Regions from separate parts of the Homo sapiens genome. Here all the other regions are linked to region 1. The links come from fine-mapping of genetic effects on gene expression. A gene starts in region 1. Each other region holds a variant in brackets. All regions are shown on one strand. Distances are between the middles of the regions. Region 1 holds the start of DPP10 (dipeptidyl peptidase like 10). Region 2 overlaps DPP10 (dipeptidyl peptidase like 10). Region 3 overlaps DPP10 (dipeptidyl peptidase like 10).

Region 1 (8,361 bases):
CTACTCCTGAATAACTCAGGAAAAGATATTAGGAAAGCCCTGTTGATAACAAGACACATAGGATAAAGAAGTTCTGTCTTATATTTACCTGAAGTAGCTTTGAAATTAACTTGTCACAGTCTATGGACCATTAAATATAAGCATGTTGGCATCTTAAGGTTGGATGGCAGAGATAGGCATATATCTCTGCATATGAAAAATAAGCAGCAGTAGGGTTATGGCTATCATTAGGGTTACTCAGAATGCTATTCTGATTTTACTGCTACTTGGGTGCATGCTGCACGTCACTTTCTTGTTACCTAAACTTGAATGTAGCCATGAGAGTGGCTTTAGCCAATGGAATGTAAGTAGAAGTGTTTTGTGTCTTTGCTGGGCATAAGCCTTTAAATAAGAGCATGATTTTTCATGTTTCTTTCCTTCTGCCTTGTTGATTGTGAAAGCTTGTATTAAGATGGGGCCTTTATCAGCCTGGATCCCTAAGATTGAAAGAGCCTCACGTGCTCTTCCTCCCGTGCCAACCAGGTATTGGCATGCTGTATAATGAGAAAGAAACCTTCATTATTTTAAACCACTGGGATTTAGAGATTACTTATAAATGTATTTATTTATTTATTTTTATTTTTTGAGATAGAGTCTCCCTCTGTCATTCAGGCTGTAGTGCAGTGGCACAATCTCAGCTCACTGCAACCTCCGCCTCTGGGGTTCAAGCAACTCTCATGCCTCAGCCTCCCGAATAGCTGGGATTACAGGTGTGCACCACCATGCCAGGCTAATTTTTGTATTTTTTTGTAGAGATGGGGTTTGCCATGTTGCCCAGGCTGTTCTCAGACTCCTGGCCTCAAGTGACCCACTTGTCTCAGCCTCTCAAAATGCTGGGATTATCAGTGTAGGCCACTGCACCCGACCTTGGAGGTTATTTGTTATTGAACCATAACTTTGCCTATCCTGACTCTGCAAGTGGTTTCCAGAAAAGATCAATTCTTGAAGACCATGAAGCCACAATTAGACCAGAGACTTCCACTTGAGTGAATCCCGGGAACAATCTGAAGCATAGAAGGTGTTACAAGCAGGGGTCAATCATGAAGAAAGATGTGGCAGGCAGGAGTTAGGTGAGGGTCAAGTCAAAAAAGCCAACCATTAGAAACCATATTCCAGTTCTAGTAGGAAATGCAAATGACTCAGTGGATGGGTCATGAGAAGACCAGAACACAGATGATAGGTGTTAAGATGAGGAGATGATCCCTCAATGGTCATGGAGGGATTTGAATTTTCTACAGTAGATTTCAAAAAAATCAGGGAAACAGCCCAATATCCTTTCAGATACCATTCTTATTGACTAGAGGCCTGGGCTTGCCTAACTTTGCAATCTGTAGGTCATCACTGTGACCAGCTAGTTAGGGCTTGGGCAGATGGGACTTGAAACAAAGAGACGGAAATTGGTAGTAGAATCCATCTGACACTTTGACTTTTTTTTTTTTCTAATGGGATATTTTCATTAACCCCATCCTAAATTTCTATTTCCCGGATCAAATGATAGCTGGTCAAGGAACATCGTGGGTTATATTTTCTGAAAGCGTTAGCCATCTTAATTTTTTTTGTGGGAAAGGTGGAAGGGACTCACTCCTAACTTTTCCCAAACTGTTTGACAACAACATATTTTTATACGGTTATCATAAGTGTTGATTACATTTGAAATTGGTCCTTTGGACTAAATTGTCTAAATTTTCTAGTTCAGTATGATTTACTGTATAGTGTTTCTTCAGCAGATCTAAACCTTAAAAAAAACTACTTCCATGTGACAAACCGTGATGCAATTTTGCAGCTGTTTTCATTCTAAACATATTGAGCCCAATATATCCCAATTAGAAGAAATGTATATGAATTATCCTTATTAAGCGGTATTTGTAATTCTCTAGCACTTGTCTAAATTTCTTTGGTCTCTATTTTCTTCTAGTTGTACATTCCAATTGGCTACATTAAGATACAGCAGATTTTACAAAATAATGAACAATTTATACATGTTTTAAATAGAAATGTTTAAAAATTACTATGGTTTTCATTTCCTTGATTCATGAAATGATAATATAACAGAAAGGGAAAACAAAATCCAAAATGAGATTTGGGTCATATGTTTTGCTCTGAACACTTGATTTTTCTTTGGAACTTGGAGTTTGATATAATGTGGAGCCTGGAAAGGGAGCATATGGTGTATACGAGGCACTCTTTTCTCTTACTGTGATTTTTCTCTATTTTCAAAATGCAACTTTGGGAAAAGATTTTAGGTGGATTCTGGCCACCTACCTATAAATGGTAGTGTCAATATCTTTCTTGGATCCTGCTGCCATCCAGGTGGGGGTAGAACCTTTTTGAAAAATTGTAGAAAAGGGGTGAAGTCTCATGTGATTATAGTTGTAGAAATCCAGCAACTCATACCCTCTTTGTGGTAGGCATATAAATGCTGTCTCTATCAATGTGCCTGGAGAGGGTTCCTTGAAGTACTAGTGGCTCCTTCCATCCTGTACAGTTCTTTGATGGGGATGGGATACTCTGAACTCTTGGACTGCTCTCCCTCCCTGGGCTCCCCAGATAATTTAGTTTGGAAGTTTCTTAGATACCTAGTACAAAGTGCTATCTAAGAAAGGAATTAAGCCAATTCTACTGGTATAGAACATTCATTTATTCAGAGATTATCAAACTGTAAACCACCTGATGAAATGTTCATAGGTTTTTTCATTGAGTATTTTGTATGTTTTTTACTTCATTACTTTCTTCTCTTCTCTTTATTGTTTCCCCCCTATAATTTATTTGAGTTTATTTTGCCATTCTTTTTCCAACTCTTTGATATGAATAATTAGCTTATTAATTATTAATTTTATGCTTTTCTGCATTTCTGGTATAGGTACTTAATTATATACATTTTCCTTTAAATATTGATTTAGCTGCATACTGCAAATTTTCTGTGTTGTTTTCATTATTGTTGAATACAAAATGTTTAAACATTTTTAATATACTCTTTTTGTGATTTATGAATTATTCAAAGCAATGCTATTCAAGCAAAATACAAGATAAGCCACAAATTCCAGTCACATTTGTGATTTAGAATTGTAAACTTCAAATCATGAGATTTGTTGGCCCTATGGCTGCCTCTGGTTGTGCTCAATATGATGCCTGGATATTGCTACACCAGATTCTTGCACACAGCCTTTTGCCTGGTTCTTATTGGCTCCATCTCTTTTCCCATGATTCTCCTGATTTCTCCAATACTCTTGCCATTAACTTTTGTGGCTGCAAACAGTCTGATCTTACTTCTGTCACATCCTTACCTCCACTTTGCTACTCAGAACTATAACCTTCTGAAACTTAGCCATCCTCAAACATGTGCAGACTACTTTGTCAGAATGTTTAGATCCCTTTTCTGTTTTACAAGAGAAAATATGTGTTTATAATTATGTATAAATTAATTTCACCAAACATTAATTTATTTCATTTCACATTAAAGTTTATCTGTAATATTTTAGGCTGTTCATAAAAGCCTCCTGAATGTAGTTCGTTAGTTCAATCTTATAAACCTAGCATTTCATTAGTAGGATACATTTCTGATGAATAAATACTGTTGGTTTTCAACATCAAACACTTTGCAACAAAAGTTGGAAAAGAGTGTCCTGCATTTACTCAAGACTACTGGATCTTATTTCCAACCAGGATATATTTATTCTAGTTAGTGTTGATGTGACAATGGGGACTGGTGACTCGGAAAACTTAATTTACAAATATTTATAATTTATTTTGCCTAAAATGACATTAGGGACAGAGAGGTGACCATTTGGGGAGTTAGACTGGCATGAGCTAACTACCAGTTTGTCCCAGGCATTCAAAAAATACGGCTTCAAGGAAAGCAATGGTCAAAAATAAAGGTTGAAAATAAAAACATTGTCTAGCTTTGGTGCGATATCCAAAAACTACAATAACTATTGTATTTGAAAACTTTTTAAATATACCTTAAGCTTTCTGCCACCTTACAGAAAGGACAGTCTCTTGGCTGGCTGTTATGGCTAAATTTTAAAAATATCCATAGGGAATATCAGTCCTTCAACCTATAGATATAAAACCCCCAAATTCTGAAACTGCCAACAGTCTTTTTTTTTTTTTTTCCACAGCATTTACTTGTGTTTTGATTGCAAGAAGTACCCAGGAAGGAATAAAATTTAGTAACAGAATGAGGATGTTATGATTTTTTTTTAAACTGGGTTAGGGGTGGGGAGAGGGAGAGAGAGAGAGAGAAATATTTTGCACTGGAAAAACTATAATCTGGAGAGACAGAGGAGTTGAGAGTGCCCCTTTAAACTGCAGGACTGCAATTGATCTCTGTATGTTTTCTGGTTTTCGTCCCTTTGAAAGGGGAATGAGAGCCAGGATCATTGGCTGTACTGTGGAGCTGTCACATCTCCATACTGAAAAGGTACACTGCAAGTGAATTTAAACCGTTTTTGGCTTTCTATTGCATATTGCCAAGAGCTTTGAGACTGATGAACCAAGTAAATGCTCTATTTAGGGCTAAGTGAGATACAGATTCCTCCAATCTGATAGCGTTTCAGCCTCCGGAGTGAGGAAGCAGCAGAAACAGAAGCAGCAGAAGCAACAGCAGTAGCAGCGGCAGCAGCAACAGCAGCAGCCCCTACTGAAGTCCAATAGAGGAGACTTGATCTCTAGTTCATTCTGGAACTCCGCCTGGGATTGTGCACTGTCCAGGGTCCTGAAACATGAACCAAACTGCCAGCGTGTCCCATCACATCAAGTGTCAACCCTCAAAAACAATCAAGGTAGGATCTGGTTTTTCCCTCTGCTTCTGCACATGTGTCTTCATTCATCTACCTAACACATGGGCATTGATATATCGGGGTACTGACAGTGGACATACCTACTTGATTTGAGTTTGAATTGAAGGTTGAGTCACAATAAAGCATTTGGCTCTGCATGTGTGTGTAGACTGGAAAGAATAGTTTCCACTGAACACTTCTTTCATCTTCATGACTTTTTTTTTTTTTACTGAGAATCTATCAGAGGTATATTTCCAGAAGAAAGTTTTGTGAGTGTCTAGAAGAGTTTCCAGTCCATGCCAATTTTCTTGATAGAACTGGGGAAGAATTTGCAAACTGCTAGAAATAAATAGCATCAAATTGACTACAAATCTGATAACAGGATTTCATTGTCATATGAATTTTGGATCTCTTATCCTTTTTTAAAAAAAGCTCATCCTTCATTGTGAGCATTGAACTGGTGGTTATACTAAAGTGATTATAGTGAGAGAGGATGAAAGACTAGAGAGAGAGTATAAAATCACATGTCTTTATTTATATCACCATGTAACTCAAAACCAGTGAGATGATTGGAGACACTCTTCAATGCAGGTGTTGTTTAAAATTTGAGGCTTTTCTGACAGCACATGGTTAAAGGTAAAGAACAAACTCACAATTTCACTCTTCTGTTTTAGTTTCAAGTCATGCTTATACCATTCTCTTTGTTTTTATTCGGGATGCTCTTATTTCCAAGAAGGCTTATAAACGACCAGACTTCCAATCAAAGTTTACTATATTTTGCCATTTACTTGAATTGTATTATTATCTATGTGGATATTTTGCATCTTGAGGGAAAGTGATGGATTCGTCTGAAACTCTTTTATGAAAAAAAAAAAAAAACTAAAACAAAAAACGTGATATCCTGACAGGGCATCTTTAGTTACTGCAATCTCTCATTAACATACAAGTGCATACCTTTTGCTACTATTCCTGATAAGCCTGACTTTTTATGATTTATATTATGTTTTGGTTTATGTCTCAGGCCTTTAATAATATTGCATAGACTGTAATTACAAAAGGAATATAATTTTCAACAATGTCTCTTCTTCATGAATTTACCTACCGTTTGCCAGAGTGTTTCAGTGATAGATAAACCATAAACTAAACATGTTCCTCTATTTATTAGCAGTGACTTTTAAAAGCAATGGGGTTTCCAGGGTATATTAAATGATGCATAATTAGATTCCCATCATACATAAACATAGGGAGTTAACTGAAATCATGCAGAACTCATATTCAGATAATTTACACCACCTCTAATAACAGATATGAGAATCTTTTTCAGCATTAGATTTTCTGTGCTGTATCTAAGTTTAGAAATAAAAAATGTTGAGCTTTTGGTATAGTTTTCCTCTGTGTATCAGTTTCCCACATACATCAATTATCTAAGCATATCACTGAACAAAGCCAAAATAGTAAATACATGACACTCTACATTGGGATATATAAGCTCTAGTGGGAAATATGTATTGAAGCCTAAAGTGGGATAGAGTTACAAACTGGCTGCCTACTGCTAAGTATGTCTAGAATGCTATAACAAAACCAGTGGCTTTCTGTTTAAGAGTCTGAGGTCACAGGAATCAAGCATTTATTTTCCCTTTTCTTTATTGAGTAAGCATAAATGACTACTACTTTCAGAGACTTCAAATCACTTCCTTTATTAGTGCTCTGGCATTGGCTGCCCACAAACAAACTGTGGAACAGAAAAAAAAATGTTTCTAGTGTAGAGGTTTTACATCATCTTGCTGATCTTGCAGATGCTGTTTTTTCCTTCTAACTGCAGCCATTGAGTTGAAATGAAAAGTATCATAAAAATTGGACAACCCACCACTTAACAATGTATTATATTAATGGCTTAATGAAGGAATCTTGAATCAAAGCTCTGGGTAATTTGGTTAATTGTACAAGTTAAATTCTTTTGTGCACCCCATTCCCAATATTGCTCTGGGGAGCAAAAAAATGCTTGTGATGTTCATAAAATATATATAGTCGCAAGCACTGAACTATTAAGGGAGTAATTACTTGAGTATTTTGCAATTTGCAATAGTGAAAAGGGATGAGTGGAAAATCTCTCTTAGTTCAAATTATGTGCTCAATTATGAAACATTTATGGCTTTTTGAATTTATACTAAAAATGGCTATCTATATTTAGGTAATGCATTAGCCTATGAACAAAATGCAATAACAATCTAAAGAAAAACTCTAAGATGAGAGGGTTTTGGGAAGCTGTGGGACATTGGAGCTCAAAATACTCTTTGAACTATTAGAATTTTAGTTTCAAGCATGGTTGTTTAAAGTTAATTTTATTCCTCACTCTTAAATTTACTATCAATTTACTATCAGATAATTTTAAGTAACCCTCCCTCATGGAATCTGGTTGGCCTGCAGGTAATGATAACCCACTTTGAGGATCTGGAAATAAATAACTTGCATATTGCTCCATTTTAGAAATTCAAAAACCTCTAGAGACTTTTCTCCCAAAGCTCAGTGTAATAACCTCTAGAGAACTTTTCCCCCATCAGTATAGTAAATGCTGACTGTTTCTTCTCTCAACAGTTAAACTACGGCTAAAAAGAATGCAATGGGAATGAACAAAAGTGAAATGCATTGCTAAAATAGCTGTAAAGGCCAAAAGTGTGCAGGAGGAGGAAAAACAGCTCTGTGTGTGTGTGTGTGTGTGTGTGTGTGTGTGTGTGTGTGTGTGTGTTCTCCTCCACTTGAAGTTCAAGAAGTGATGAAGTCTATAGTGGGTAAAATTCAGCAATTGTTGCCAGTGAAGGCTGTTTGTGGCCATGATGTGTCAGAGTTGGAAAAGAGGAAATTGGGAGAAGTTATAATGGAACAAGATGATCAAGAGTATTCAGGTTGCTTGACACTTGCTTTGGTCGTTCTGGCCATTCTTTAGCTCAGACAGTTACTGACACACTTTTCCTGGCATACTTTGGCAGGTATGTTCCTATCGTCAAAACCAGTAAGGGAGAGAAAAGGGAGTCAAATAGGGGTGCCAAGTGTGTTCTCAGATCACTTTGGGTGAAATGCTGAATGCAATTCACTCTGAAAACTTTCCTCCATTTCAGAGCTTGTAAGGGAAGAAAGCTTTTCCTGATGTGATTACAAATCTTCCTGTGAAGGTAGCAACATTCTTTTAAAAAAAATCTTTTACTCTGAGATGTTTAATGGAAAGTTTTAGGAAGTATCTGGGAATGCTAAATAGAGATCAGATCTTTGCGTTATTATAAACGTGATTTCTGAAGAATGTCCCCCACCATGGGTAGCAAACTTGAGTTTTTCCTTCACCATTATGGCTTCTCTTGGCTGCACTGAAAGTAAATTAAACCTTTCAGCTAAATCTCTGATCTTGGTTTACTTCTTTTGCTAGTGGAATTGCAAACTTAGAATTTTGCCTCTAAAATGTGCAGATTTTTTTCTTATTTCTTTCACATTTGAATATCAGTCTAGTATCCTCGTGTGTCTAAAATGAGTAGAGAAAATCCTTCATCCTTTT
Region 2 (8,000 bases), 330 kb after region 1:
GAGGGATCAGGGTTCTAATTCCATGGTTCAGTGCTAGCTAAGGGGACCTCATACCTCTAGAAGGCTCCTAGTAATAGCGAAAAGGGAGGATTTATATGATTGAAGAGAAGAACAATAACAACAGTACTGTGGTACTATTAATTTATTTTTAGGAATTACATTACTTTTTTACATTACTGTAGGAATCCATATACATGCTAGTAGTAATACTTCAACTAGATGGAAACATGAGAAATGGGGACATTCACACAATGGTGGTAAGAGAGTGAATGGATCCCAACTTTTGCAAAATAAAAATAGCACCGTGCCGTAAAACCAAAAATGTGCTTTCTCCTTTATTTAGTAATCTCAGTTATAGGAGCTTAATTTATATTTAAAGAGCAAATAAACACTAAAGGAAGACATGATACTTGCACATTTGTATAACTGGGGTGGAGGGAGCACATGGGCTACAAAATGTAGAAAAATCTTATACATCAAGCATAATTTTGGCCTTGAACAGTAATGCCATTGTTTAGCTCTGAATTTCTTTTATACCTTGAGTCCCGCTATAGAATTTTTGCTATTGTTCTTTCATCTGTAGGTCCCTTCTCTACAAGGAATAATCAGGATTCCAGGAACTACTCATATACTCAAAATTTTTGAAATGAGTTTTATGTCTTGGCCACATCTCCTTGATATCCTTCAGCAAGAAATATGTGGTTATAAAATCAAATGGGAAAAAACGACTGCAATGGTGGAAAAGGTTTTATTGTCAGATACACTAAAACACTTTGGATATGAATGTTATGTTTAATTGATATAAAAGTCTAAACACTTACCCACTGTGCTGTGATTATGGCCAGGGTCATTCTTCAGAGCTAATTCATTTAGAATATGTTAAGAAAAATCCTGTAAGCATCAGTAATTGAGGAAAATTGAACTCTTGAACTTTTGCCAGATATTTGGCTGTATGCATTTTATGTGTTAACTGAGAAGAAGCTGACAACTTGCTACATTCTGAAATCGTCTCAGTTGAGATTTGGGTTGCAGGAGACATTAGCCATTAGCCCAACTGCAGGGCTATTCACTGTGGCCGTATCATACCAGTGCTCAGGAGACAGCAGTCACACCTAAGAAGTATGTCCTTCCTCACCTGGACTGCTCTCATAGCAAAGCCACCTGAACATCCCTCGTTGTTTTACCAACCAGATTCATCATCTGCTTCCTGATTCGGCAACGAGCATCACCTGTTACCTGAGGGAGTCCATCCTTGTAAGAATAAGAAACTTGACTAAGCAAAGTTAGCATGTGGTTGCGTCTTCAAAGAGCACAAACGATCTTGTGAAGGCGATTGTTTGGATACCAAGAAAGATAAAGATCTCTTTCTATCTTTAGTGATAGCACCCATAGGTGAATAGAAGGAAGGAGGCTCCGTCTTAGCCGGGAGGAAACTCACTTGTTCAACATCACTGGAACTTCTAAGTTGAAGTGGAAAAGGGAGCATGTGATTTTCAACACTTCCAACACTTCCAAGAGTAGCATGTTTCCATAGTCATGCATAATCTCAGTCTGATTTGAGGCTAAGAAAATATTAAAAGTTTCCAACTCTTAAAAAGTATAGGAGTCCCACGGCCTGGACACATAGTAAAACACTTAATAAACACTTTAGATTTTTTTTTCCAAGGAAGCAGATTACGTCTTGAAACACCCTTTACTCTCAGGCCAGTATGGTACGGTCAGTAAGAGGTATCAAGTAAAATTAATTATTGAAGAAAATTCTTCATTCTAGAGTCTAAATAATTTCTCCTGAGATAATCTTTTTCCACAGTTATTTTATTATAATGGGATTACCCTAATAGTCTTTGCTAAAAGAGCTGAGATACATAAAATTATTTTTTCATAGTATAGAGTTCTAAATCTTTATGTCCTTATTTTATTTATTAATATTATTATTAATATTATTATTTTTGGAAAGAGAGTCTCACTGTGTTTTCCAGGCTGGAGTGCAGTGGCATAATCTCGGCTCACTGCAACCTCTGCCTCCCAGATTCAAGCTATTCTCCTGCCTCAGCCCACCGAGTAGCTGGGACTACAGGTATGCACCACCATGCCTCGCTAATTGTTTTGCATTTTTAGTAGAGATGGGGTCTCACCATGTTGACCAGGCTGGTCTCGAACTCCTGACCTCATGCGATCCACCCACTCGGCCTACCAAAGTGCTGGGATTACAGGTGTGAGCCACCGCACCCAGCCACCTTTTTTATTTTCTTTAAAAATCAAAACAGAACATATTTGACTTAGGCCTTTATCAGACAGAGAGAAGGATGCACATACCTAAGCTGGTAAATAATTATGTCATCCTCATTTACAGTATAGGAACTTTCTCCGTAATTATTGTACTTTGAGGATTAATTTTCCATATCTCATGTGTGTTCCTTAAGATTTCCACCTCATACCTTTTTTTTTTTTCAGCTAAAGCATAAATGTATTGACTCAATCTCAGTTTAAGAAGTAGGGTCAACAGAGCCTTAGGACCATCTCCTGGTGGCTAACCATGAATTGTTTCCTTTCATGATTTTTTTAAGCACATGTTGAGTTAGATGCCAAGATTCTGAAACCAGATGGAGCTGACTCAATGAGCTTCCATTTATGTTCCAGCATGCCAGCATTAGCTGGGTTCCAGCAGATACTTAAGTAATGAGATTTGAGCAACATCTTCCCCAAAGTATTATCTTCTTTAGCCTATTGTAGTTTATGAAATTTGGGGGATTAAAATCTGGCTTAGAGAGAGTAGGTCACTTCAATTCTCAAAGCCTTCATTTTCTTATCTATAAAATGAAAATAACAAAACCTACTTCATAAGGTCTAGTAATGATTACATTAGAACATCTGGTAGAAGAAGCCAGGCAAAGTGACTACATGCTGTGTTATTTCTTTTATGTGACATTACTGAAAAGACAAAACCTTAGGAAAATATTAGATCCATATTTGCCAGTGATTGGTAGTGGGAACAGCAGACTGACTAAAAAGGGGCACAAGGGAAATTCGAGGAGTGATA[T/C]GCTTTTTGTCTATCTTAATTGTTATGGTAGTTACACAACTATTTACATTGTCAAAACTCATCACGGACTTTTAGTTTATACAAATTATAACTCAGCAGGCCTGACTTTTTAAATGAACACTCATCACGGACTTTTAGTTTATACAAATTATAACTCAACAGACCTGACTTTTTAAATGAACACTCATCACGGACTTTTAGTTTATACAAATTATAACTCAACAGGCCTGACTTTTTAAATGAACATATGTAATGGGTTTCACACACAATGCAGACTCAATAAACAAGCCCTGCTCACAACTTCTCTCAAAGGAGCCAAGCACAACAGGTACTTAAATTAATGTCCTTTACATTGAAAGGTATTATATAAAACCAAAGCAAGCATTTTCCATTTTTAACACATTTCTAAGGCTTTTGCATTTCCATAAAGAAGGCAGTGATGACTCATGATGTGATTTTAAGAATCTGAACTTACTAAGGTCCCTTGAAAGTAACCACAAAAAGGCTAGATCTAAAATATATTAAAATCCATATACAATTAATTGTAGAGTGATTCATATAGATACAGTCTCTATTTTGTATTGCTTCTTTTTTAAATAGTTATCTGCTAGTGAACAAAAAAATAAATATATACTTTTTGATATTTCAAATAGATATCAAAAAGTATATATTTATAGCTTTTGAAGTATAACTTTTAAACTTTATCAAATATAAAAGTATATATTCTATTTGATATATAGGTATGTGTATGTATATATGTATATTTATTTGATATATATGTATTTGAATAGAAATAGAAAGTGAATACTAGTAACCTGATGGCTAAGAACGATCACATATTTATATGTATTCATTCAACACATGCACTGTGGGTTGTATTCTGTGCCAGGAGATGAGGATGCAGGGATGAATAAATAGTATTTCTGTCCTCAAGAAGCTCATACTTTATAGTGATTTAGAGACATGTATGATGAAATTGACACTCTAATGTGAGTCTGAACAATTTTTAGGCAAGCAAATGCTCTTCATGCACTACATTCCATAACCAACCTATGCACAGCAGTAAGTGGAGTCTTTGGGGCTTGGTTTTTGTTACCACGTTTGTTACAGAATGCCATATTTGGACCTATGACAAAAAAAAAAGTAATCTTAAGTCAGGCTTGCTTATTGGAGAATAAAATAGAATCATGAGGTAGGAGATTTGGAGGGACTCTGTTACAGTCAAATAATTTTATTTTAAGGAAAGCAGATTTACTCCTTAACACTATCTTAAAATCAGGAGAAAATGTAAGAAACTTTCATAAAATATTTAATATAGTTTCAAAGTTGTGAGCGTATCACTGTTCAGAAGTTAACTGCAAAACAGAGATGACTATATTTGCCATAATTATCAATAATGATGTATATATATATATATACTCTATAGTTACACTGGGATGAGCATTAATGGATTGGTAATGAATGAACAACAGCAATGATTCAACAACATTAGTTGGCTAAAGCTTCACAAGAATAAGGAAAACACAGCAGGAACCTTATAGAGGTAAGTGAAGCATGAAATTCAGTTACGTCTTTGACCTAATAGCATTAGGTCAAAGCCTTTCAACTTTATCTCTTTACTAATTATGGAACGAACCCTGTTTAAACTCTTCATACCATATAATTCTCTAAGCAATTCTTAGTGGTAGTTATTATTATTCACATTTTAGCGATGAGAAAATTGAAATCCAGATAGATCAAGTGACTTATCTAAGATAACCCAACCAGTAAGTGGCAGAGATGGAATTTGACCTCAGCCAATCTGGGTCCTGGTCCCCACCCTTGACTCTGTATGATACAGTGTTACAACAAGAGCATGGGTAGAGATGCAATTAGAAGGTAAGAATTATATCTGCAAAATCTTGATTAGTCCTAACAATAATAATGTAGTCACTACTGTTAACCCAACTTGATGCAGGCTAATAGCTAAAGGTCATAAAGTGTCCAAAGAAAGATTTAGTAGTAAGTACAATATCCCAGGAGAATCTACCTCCAGAGTGCAAGTCGTTATACTACTCAAGTTGATATCTTCCAATGTAGGTGTCTAAAAGCCCTTTCTAGTTCTGAATTTCACTGATTCTAAAAGGGAGTTTGTGGTTAGTATAGCTGGTGGGGGTAGACTTACATTGCTGCCAAGTGCAGAAATACACTAAAGCCATGCACAGCAACTCAAGGGTCAGCATTTTTGTCCCACTTCTGGGCATCCTGAAAATCCTTTCTTCTTTGAGCTTCCTCAAAATCTTGTATAAACTGGGCTTAAACTAGGTAGATCTCAGCTGGAGGGAAAGTTCTAGCAGGCTGAGGAAGCCTAGAAAGTTTGCATTCTCTAAGCAATGTTAGCATGAACTCTTTGTACTCATTACTTCTTAGTATATGGCAGCAGCTTCAGAAAGGTGAGTCAGGAAACATTCACATTCCCAACAATTAGAATGTCACCACTCTTTGTTCATTCTTTTGAATTATAGTCAAGAAGTGTCTTATTAATTCAACACAATGCATAAATATATCTTGAGTATCTCCAATGAATCATGTACTGTTCAAGCCTCTGGCAATACAAACAATAAAAGACACTCCTACGTCTCAAGGAACTATCACTTTGGGTGACAGAGAGAGACATCTAAACAAATATACTTACAATGTTGGTAATACATTCATGGAGGCACATGGGAAGGACCCAGAAGCAGAGGAGGTTCACTGTGCTTGGATGCAGATAGCAGGAGTTAATATGGAAGAAGTCAAGAATGTCTTCCCAGAGATGGTGAAAAACAAAATGAGTTTTGAAGATATGATGGGAAAATACACTGATTTTTAGATATAGCTCTAGATAAAAATAAAGAGACAAAGTGTTACAGGTAAAATTAGCTGCAGATACATCTTAGTTGTCATGTAGTTGATCCAATTGAGTGAACAATTGAACAACAATTAGAACACAAACAAACCTCCATGATCTGAGGCCTGCTGAACTCTCTTTTCTGACAGCCCTTCCCACTGCACATTGGATATAGAATGATGCCATGGCATTCCATGCATCCATGCCTTTGAACACACTATCTCCTCTGCTTGAATGACCTTTGCTGCTTATGTAGAAGGAAAAAACAGTTACATTCATACCTAAGGTTCCAGAGCTTCCAAGACCTTGTCAAAGAAAATAGACTCCTAGCTTTTCTCTACTGAATGCAATCTCCGTTATCAGGCCATAAGCTCCTTAGGAGCTAGCGCTAGATCTGAGTGAACACTGCCAGTAGTGTGATGAATTTGGCTTTTATAGGCTCAAAAGAAATATTGTTAAATGTACAACATTTTTTGAGCCATTTGTTAAATTTTTGGCAGCTTGAAGTCATCTATGGTGGGAGCTGACAAACACTACATTAAAAAAAGATCAAAAAATTTGTTGGATAAATTACATTAGAGTAATTTTTAAAGTCACATATTCAAGTTGTAGTGATTTAAATTAAATAAAGTTAGTGCAGATTATAAGAATTGATGAGTATTGAATTGATGAGTATTGGAAAAGGGGATGAGTGGAGACACCTCTCTGAGCAGTGTGAGTTTTGAAAAGGAAATCAAATTATTAGAGAAGATAATGGTAGCCAAAAAGACTTTCTAAGGATCAGTGTTCTCATAATTAAAAAAAAGAAGGCATAAGAATTTCTGCCAAACATACTTTTTCAAAAATAAAAAAGATATATGAAAATGTTTTATAAACCATGTAGTACATAACTATATAATATATACATTATATAGTGTATAGTTGCAATTATTGGACTAAAAGCAGTTAATACAGGCTTTACATATGTTAAGACTTTTATTCAGAAGTAAATGAAATGTACTCTTTGAGAATGGGTATATTTTATTGTTTTTTATAACCATATTCTCATTTATTTTTGAAACTCTTCTTAGAATAAGAAAAGAGTACAGGAAGACCAACAAGTCACATTCAAACCTTATAATTCTGCAGCCTAGGAAACACTGTCTTGTGCTGGAAATGGCTTCCTTTCTTCCTGGTCCAACTTTTTTGAACTGCCCATGGATTTTGCACTGTACAAATCACAATCCTTAGAAATATATTACCCACATACATTTCTGAAGAGGGTTTTCAGGGCCCTTTTTTGAGTATTACTTTTGGATATATTATTCCTACTAAATTATATTTCTTCCAGAAAAAGTTTTGAAAAGTTGGCAACCTCCCTATTTCAGTCCTTCATATTATGCCACTTGTTACAGTCATAAACAGCAAGGAAAGAAGGAAGTTTGACCAAATGCAAATGGCTGGGAAGAAGTAGCCCTTTCAGAGTTGCTGAATGTCTCGTGTGAAAATGCTTTGTGGCTGAGCTTAAGAAATAAATATAAAGTAGTATTTAAATCCTCATCTCAAAGCTTCTATCAGTAATAGATATGAAGCCCAAAGCAGTAAATGTTTAAATGACTACTTTACATCTCTTAAATGCAGTGTTATGTCCTGGCTATATGGTAATGACATCATTAAACAGAAATCCTTTGAGCCGCAGAACCAAGATGCTTTATAGTAAGTTCTATGAAGTTACATAGTCAAAGAGTTCACTGTTCTTTAAGTTAGACTCATATCCGCAATTTTATGACAGGTTCTGCTTAAATAATTGTAGGGTAGTGGTAAAGCATGGACTTTAGGGTCAATAATCTGAAGATCTAAATTTGAATTTGTCGTGTCTTTCATTAGTTAGCTGACATTCTGGATTTCAGTTTCAAGACCTTTAAAATGGGAATAATAGCAATCATCTTAAACATGTCCAAGAAAGAGTGAGACAATTAAATAAATACATTACTAAGAAGGGCTATAAATGAAATGTTATTATAGGTATTAGCATCATCATTATCATTCATTACCCTAATCATTATCATCTTTAAGCAATATTAAGGGATGACACTTACAGATAGACTGAGT
Region 3 (8,000 bases), 240 kb after region 1:
GTTTTATAAAAGACCCTGCTGTTATTGTAATGGCACAAACTGGTATGCATTAGGCCCCTCTTGTTTATATTAGAATATTTATTTAGAACTAAATATTAGAGGACTCTTAGGCTAGAGATGCAATCCAGGAGGTGAGTTGCCTGTATTTTTTGCCCAGTTAGCTTTCTAAGAAAGTAGAAAAAAAATCTTTATTGTGTACTAGGAAAAACCTGATGTGGAAGAATAAGGGTCTGAAATCTCATACAGCTGCCCCACATGCAAGTTGTGTGTCCTTAGGTAATTTTCATAATCCCTTTGATAATTAGAACTACAAGAGAAATTTAGATAATCTATCATAAATTACTTATTGAAGATATTTCTGCTGGAATACATTTTTGAGAAGGATTTATTAAATGTCACCTTAGGGCTTTCTCACTGATTACAAGAATGCTTCAAACTAATATTATACAGTCTTAAAATTTTTAAGAATTGAGATGGCAAACTTCTACTACAGTACCCTTATGGAGCAAGGACTGGAGCTTCAGCATAGAAAACCTCTAGCTAAATAAGCTCACCGTATTCAAATGTGTTGACAAAGTGCAGGATATAGGAAACCATTCTGCAAGTCATGACAGGATTCTCCGCAGGTATTTTCCCCTAGGATATTTAAAATAGGATGTAATTGATGGAAATCAATTTGCAGAATCTTATCTCGAACACTTCTGTTGGCACATCTGTACTTTTATAGAATCGTCTCTTGAGGCTTATCTATTTCAGTAAAGTTTCTAAATACTGTAACGTCAGTGTCTAGGCTAAAGATATGATGGAGAGCATCTAAATTTAAAATAAGAGAGAGTGCTAATACGCAGGTATTAATAAAAACTTTTCATGTTCCTGCTAGTGATGTCCCTTATGGGAAACTCATGCAACGTTATTTCATGATGTTTATGATTTTGTAATCACTCTAAACTACAGAGCCATTTTCTCACTTTCTGAATGTGTTTATTATCAAAACAACATTATCTGATCTTATAAGACTGGGTCCTGTATTTTTTTAAGAGCTTTGAGAGTAGATGGCAATAATAGGTTCTCTCACCACTCTGGTTTCACATTGTTCCTTCTGTCTTAGAAGTGTAATTTATTCCCTAGATTCCTACTTTTTAAGAATTCAGTATTTTGCCTTTCTTCTTTAAAAGCTAATTGTGCATCTCTTCACTCTGTACAATGTTTTCAATTGAATAAAAACGTGTTAAAAGGTTAGTACAACCTGATGTTTAGGAGACCTACGAATATAGTGAAATAATTCTTCATAAGTGTAAAGTACAAATGGCCTAATGAATATAGTCCTGAAGAAAATGTAGTAAATTGACTTTTGAAAATAAGTTCACTCTTTTCAAGGTTGTTTTCATAGGCTATTCAGACATGTATTCAGGGAATCAGCCAATCAACCAGATTACAACTGAACTAAAATGATGAAACAAGCATGGTGTCAGGACCTAGAAAAACCATGTGACTAATACGTGGTCCCATAATCAAAGGCACTTATTTAGAAAAGAGATGATTTTGACTATTACCTGATAGAGTCCTCCATGTAACATGTACCTATTCCATGTTTTCTCATTTAAGATTCTCTTTTCATATTGTCCATATTATAAATGATATACCATTTTGTTCTGTATTTAGGTCATAATAATTAGTTTTTAATTAAGCTGATCTTCTCCAAAAATATCCTACCCAATTCTGCTCCAACTATTCCAGTTCTACCCCTTTTGCAAATTCCAACCTAAATCTTGCTTTTTCTGAAGTCTTTTTCAATGTTCAATCATATTAGCCTATCATGTTGCTTACTTTGAATTGCTCTGACATAATTTGTTTTTAAACACCATCATGCCATACAGTGCATAGTCCATTACAGTCTAATTTATGGATACGTTTTGCTTTACCAGTGATTCTCCTGATTCACTTAGATTCTTCTACTACCAAGAGTCTGGAAAGGAAATCCGCAACTCTCAAGCCAGTTTTCAATTCCCTTTGCTTTATCTTGTGAACATGATAAAGTTTCCTCCTTCTCTGATTCTTGATATTTTCTACTCTTAAAATAGCATTTATCATCTATTTCATAGGGACCAGATAGAGCCATAAGTTTACATGAGGAAAAAAAAGAATTGACTTTGTGTTAGCTTCCCAGTTCAGAGATTCTCATTACAACTGTATTCCTGATTGCCAAAAGGCCCTTTAAATGAAATGCCTCCTGTAACAAAGGGAGGCTCTATGTGGGCTGACTTTATTATCCAACAGCAGGGAATATCTGTGCATTGAAAAAAAGAAGAAAATGCTTTGAAAGAATACATTTTACAAAGCCGGTAGTAGGTCAGGGGAGCCTTTGCCTGACTCTACGTTAGAGTTTTTAAATTGCTTTTGGATGAGGACAGCCTATTTTTATTTCTTTGTCATCCAACATTGTTATGATAAATAATTAATTTGCTATATTTTATGTTTCTATCATAATCCATGTTGTGAGATCACTGTGGCATTTTGCTGTAATGATAAGAAGAAATAAATGGTGCTACAATGCTTAGGAAAGATTGTGTAATTTCCAGTGATGGACAGTCTGGGAAACTTAGCAAATGGCTGGCCTGGGTCTCACCTAGTAGAAAAAGCTCAGAAGAGATGAGTTAAAGCGTTGTCAATTGTTCAGTCCCATCCCTTCAATGGAAGTGCTGAAAATTAAGGCACAAGTCCTAAGCCCTGCTGTAAGATTGTACAATTCACAACATTTCCTAGACCCGGCAACATGACTCACAGATTGGTGCTGTCTCTGTCTCTGTCTCTCTCACCACTTGCTCTCTCTCCCCATCCTCTCTCTGAAGGGGAAGACTCCTTCAGAACTGTTTTTCTGTGTAGCATGGATGGAACTGGAGATCATTATGAATTTGAAATTAGCCAAATCCATTCTTAAATACCTCAGACTGACATACATCTTCCAAGGATTCAAGTTCCAGCTGGCATTTGAAAACATGGCTTTAGAGGCTCATTCAACCCTGAGATTCTGTGATTGCATGATATTCTAGTTTACCTTCATCTTTTCCATTTTTTCTTTTAAATGTAATAATGCTTCCAGTGTATATTAGTCACTGACAACTAATGAACTGTAAAACATTTTCTTATGCTTTCCATAGACCCATAGCTAGAGATGTTGACCCAGTGATTAATTCTAAATTGCAATCGATGGGTAATTATTATTATTATTATTATTATTATTAGGCTTTTGAATAATATTGAATATGTCCCTGAAGTTAGAAATTTTTCCCCACTTTCAAAGTGAAAGCCTGGAAAAATAGTTAAGTTGGTTCAAAAGAGCCAAGGATTTTATTCTTTCTTATGATACTATCCTCCCAGGTAAGATTTTATATCTATCTATCTATCTATCTGTCTGTCTATCTATCTATCTATCTATCTATCTATCTATCTATCTATCTAGATATAGAATCACATATAGATATAGATTTAATATCTCCAATTACTTGCAGAAATTCATGGAGTGCTGACGTGCTGAGAGTATGTAAATAGTACACCCTACCGCTGTTTAACCTTGTGGTGAAATCATGTGCACTCTTCAGGTCATGTTCCAGTACTTTAATCAAGTTTTCCATTTGGTAAACTGAAAGACCCTGTATTTCTAATGCTTTGCTAATCACTATAGGAGCAAACATTTATTGAATGTGTCTTATGGACCAGACACTGGTGATGATAAGAACAATTGTATTTATTCTGTTTCCTTGAATCGTCTTGGCCATACCTTATCGAGGTACAATATTTGCTTTCATTTTGCAGATGAGGAAACGTAGATTATGAAATGTTAATCAACTGACTCAATGTATGGTAAATTCTTTCTATCTTACTTTCTCCCATTTAGTTTTTTTCTTTCATTTATTGAACAAATATTTATTTAGTTTCCATTATGTACCAGATGCTGTGCTAAACATGAGGAATATAAGGATGAATAAAACAGAAGTGGTCTTGTCAAAAAGTAAGTGACGGAAATGGAATTCTCACCCAGGCCCACTTTATTCCAAGGATAAACTCTTCACCACCCAGTGTGCCTTCCTCCCTTCCTTCCAGCCTTCCTCCCTTCCTTCCAACCTCCTTTCCTTCCCTTCCCTTCCCTTTCCTTCCCTCTCCCTTCCCTCTCCCTTCCTTCCTTCCTTCCTCCCTCTCTCTCTCCCTCCCTCCCTCCCTCTCTCTCTCTTTTTCTTTTTTTCTTTCTTTCTTGCTTGCTTGCTTTCTCTGTGTGATTCTTCCTATATCACAACAAAGAATGCAATCATGACAGTGAATATGAGAGAAGGTTTTCTTCGTATCTGATTGACTAACTCCCTTCTACTACTTGAGGACAGTGCAGCTCAGCCCTTCTCCCCTCCCGTCTTGGATTTTCTTTCCCCTGCCATCCTAGCTGCAGAAAGCTCAGGGACATCAGCCCATTCAAATGGTGATATCCCATCTTTCAAGATTTAACCCCCTGTATCTTGCAAACCATCTCACTTTCCAAAGCCCCTTATTAAATTGTCCAAACTCGCTGTTTAAGTAAGACATGGCCATTTCCACATGACAGAATATAAACTGCTGATAGTTTTTGTATTGTATTATGGGGTAAAGGGACAAATCTACTGTGACCAGTGATAATACACTCAAAGATTCTCACTGCCTCAGGCACTTTCTGACCACCCTGCTCAGGGACAATCCATGTCTCCATACCCAGTAAGTCATGCACAGCATTCCAGATAGGGAAGATTCTTTGTGTTAATTCCAGTGATGGCTGGCTGTAGTGGGTTTTATTTTTCAGGTAACCCTGAGCCAGGCCCTGTGGGAACTGAAATACAAGTAGA[C/T]CTTCCTGTGAGTTCCATACAGAGATCTCTCAGGAACTTGCTCTTTTACCTCCCGGCCACTCTATGATAAGTGGAAGTTAAAGGAGTTGGTTTCACTCTACCACTACTTCACTGTGGTGCTCAGTGTGACATGTTCACCTGGTGTTCAGAGGTCTAAAAGAAATGAATTCTGCAGTACAGAGAGAAATTTTAAAAGGGAGAGACAAAAGGGGAAAAAACAGGATGAGGTTAGCATATGAAAGTGTTTTCTTTCCCTCCCTTTGGGCTGGTTTTACAATGCTAGTGTGCTAGTAGAATGGCTGCTTTCTTCAGCACTTTGTTAAAGGTCCCTGGTTGGGTAAGAAACTTGACTGCACTAGGACACATCAAACAACCAGCCAGGCTTTGGTCTTACCCAGGCACTGAAAAGCTGAGCCCTGTGCTCTGCTCTCCCATTTGCCACATTTTGCCGGATGAGTCTGGTATGCTTCAGACAAGCAGTTACACATTTCACGAAGGAAAGAGGTCGGTGGATGGAAAATTACTGTCATTTTTAGTGGGTGAAGGCAAAGAAGACCTACCTTCTCTTCCATTGTGAGATACTGTACAGCACCTTCGATTCATGTGCGTAGGTCTGAATTCTGTTTTCAGGATACTTAGTGTTGTGTTTGTAGAATTGAGGAGATGCTACCTAGGGGAGACCATGGAGATCCACTGAAGTGGCTGCGGCTGATTGTGATTGAATTTTTAAGCATTTACTGAACATTCCTAATTTGTCTGTATGGAGGTTAACAACAATTTCCTACAAACTGAGTCAAAAGGACATATTTTATTTTTGTTTGTACATGAACTTTCTGCATCGTCTGATGAAGACCATTATCCCCTCTTTCCAGATATCCTCATTTTCTTTCTTCTAAATGTCTGGTTGCCCTTTCTGAGAATTTTTCATTGATTCCTCTTTCTCTTCCTAGCTGTGAAATATTATACCAGGTTCCTTTCTCACCCTGCTCACCAACTCACTCCTTCCAACTTGTGTGTTAATTTCCTCACTCCCGTAACTCATGAGAAAAACAACAACAAACAACAAGATTTGAATGTGTTAAGCTGTACCCCATGCTGGGATAGTTATTTTGCCACTGACTCTTAGGAATCACTGCCTGATCCCTGCTACTCTAAATTCCTGTCTCAGTTTTTGTCAATAATTAAATAATTAACTTTTGGTTATAGAAAAACATAGACCTAAGACCTATGTTTACCCCAAAAGGGAACTAACGGCGTCCATTTCTCTCTCTGAAGCCTGAGACAATTTTCCGGAACTCCAGAATTAGCTATGTGCTTGCTAGTGTTTCCCATTTGATATCCTATAATCAAATGTGCAAAATTGAACTCATCTTTTCTTCACCCTAAACTCGCAATTCTGCTTATATTTCCATGTTTAGCAAATGTCACTATTAGCTATACACATGCTCTAATTAAAATATGGAAGTCTTTCCTGATTTGTTTCTTTTCCTAATACATTTTCTACCCAGTGATTGTGCTCCTGGTAATTAGTTTATTGACTTTGGCTCTGTCCTCTCCATCACTTGCCACCTTATTAAGACCCCATTATTCCTTGTCCGTGTGATCACAGAAGTTTCCTATCCGGTCTTCTTGCTTACACTGTTGGATTCTTCTAATGCATTATTCCCACAGCAGCTGCCAGACTTGCTTTTCTAAGGCATAAATATAGCCTATTTATCCCTTGATTTTGTTCTTTAATATTGTTCTCATAAGCAATTATTACAGCTGGCTCTACCAGTACACTGTATTTTCTTCCCTGAGTGCTACTTCCAGTTTCCAGTATAGGACATGAGCATGCTCTTCTGACCTGGAACACATGCAGGCTGCTTGCTTTCTCTACCTCACTAACTGCTAATCATCTTCAGAAGGCAAGGTGATGCAAGGAAAAGAGAATGCACTCTGATTATAGCCTCAGACTGAATTTCCAATCCCAGTTCTAAAACTTCTGAGCTAAGTGACTGAAAAATTACCTAACCTTGTTTAGTATCAATTTTTGTATCTGTTTTTCAGATAATAATAATAATAGTAGCTACTTTAAAAGGTTAGTGGATTGAGGTACATATGTAAAGTTATCTATTGGTTTGACTTCTTCAAGCAGCCACAACTAAGTTCCAGCAAACCAAAACAAACAATTTATTAACAAAACTCTATGATACTTCACAAAATTAAAGAAAAGAATGGCAAAACCAGAATATATCTATAGATGTAAAGAGCTAAAACTGAGGACATCATAACCCTAGGAATCCTAGGGTTTTTATCTCTGCTTCTAAGTTGCTTTTAATTCTTCATCTCCATGGCTCCAAGAGATACCATATACCTAGTTAGCCCCATCAGAAAAACTAGGGGCAATGACTCTGAATGGCCGAGCTTAAGTTATGTGGCTAACATTAGACTCATCCCTATGACAGATAGGATAAGGAGCATTAATTATCTCATTTTGGATCACATGTCTATCTGTGTGGTAGAAGACCTGAGCCAGGAAAAAACGCAATAATTGTAGTCAAGAGCTTCTTTGTCCAATGTACAATACATTCTTCCCATACAAAAAATTACAAGAGTCGTTCTATTTAACATAATTCAAGTATCACACATGCATTCATCCTCTTCCAAGTAGTAGAAAACTTAAAGTCATATCCAACTATTGCAACCAGAACCAAGTTTATAGTATCTCTGGGATGTGCATTCCTTTTAATTATTTGCTCATATGTTGCTCATTACCTTGCAATATATGAACAAAATCTATATGTTTAACCACATCTCAGACATGCATTATACAACAATGTTGAGAAAAACAAGAAAACAGCTATAAAAATTCCCACGTAGGATAGGGTTACAGTGGAATCCCCATATATCTGTTACTGGTTGAAGAAAATAATATATGCATGGACAAGAATAGTAAGGAGCAGACATTGGTTGGCTTGAACCTTTCCAGTTGAGTCACCATTGCTTATTTTCCCCATCTGACCTTTATGGTACTTCTTCTGAGCATTATTCTTTCTGGCTGCACCTGAGGGGGTCTTTAGGAAAGACTCCCTGGGGACTGTACATTTTTCTGTGCTTCTCTAGTGTAGTCACAAGGTGCTAACAGTTACTTTA

Evidence for each region.
Region 2: its variant is fine-mapped to the expression of DPP10 in lung (TOPMed, PIP 0.97).
Region 3: its variant is fine-mapped to the expression of DPP10 in lung (TOPMed, PIP above 0.99).

The regions. Positions count from the first base shown.
Region 1 is chr2:114,438,019-114,446,379 of GRCh38, forward strand. DPP10 (dipeptidyl peptidase like 10) reads left to right here and starts at 4,623. Exons shown (of 26, transcript NM_020868.6): 1 at 4,623-4,820. The coding sequence starts at 4,761.
Region 2 is chr2:114,770,224-114,778,223 of GRCh38, forward strand. All of the region lies in intron 1 of DPP10 (dipeptidyl peptidase like 10), which reads left to right. Among named protein-coding and RNA genes, the nearest start is that of DPP10-AS3, 59 kb to the right of the region's middle. RefSeq lists an enhancer at 1-74. The variant T/C (reference allele first, on the strand shown) is at 3,041.
Region 3 is chr2:114,679,356-114,687,355 of GRCh38, forward strand. All of the region lies in intron 1 of DPP10 (dipeptidyl peptidase like 10), which reads left to right. Among named protein-coding and RNA genes, the nearest start is that of DPP10-AS3, 150 kb to the right of the region's middle. The variant C/T (reference allele first, on the strand shown) is at 4,866.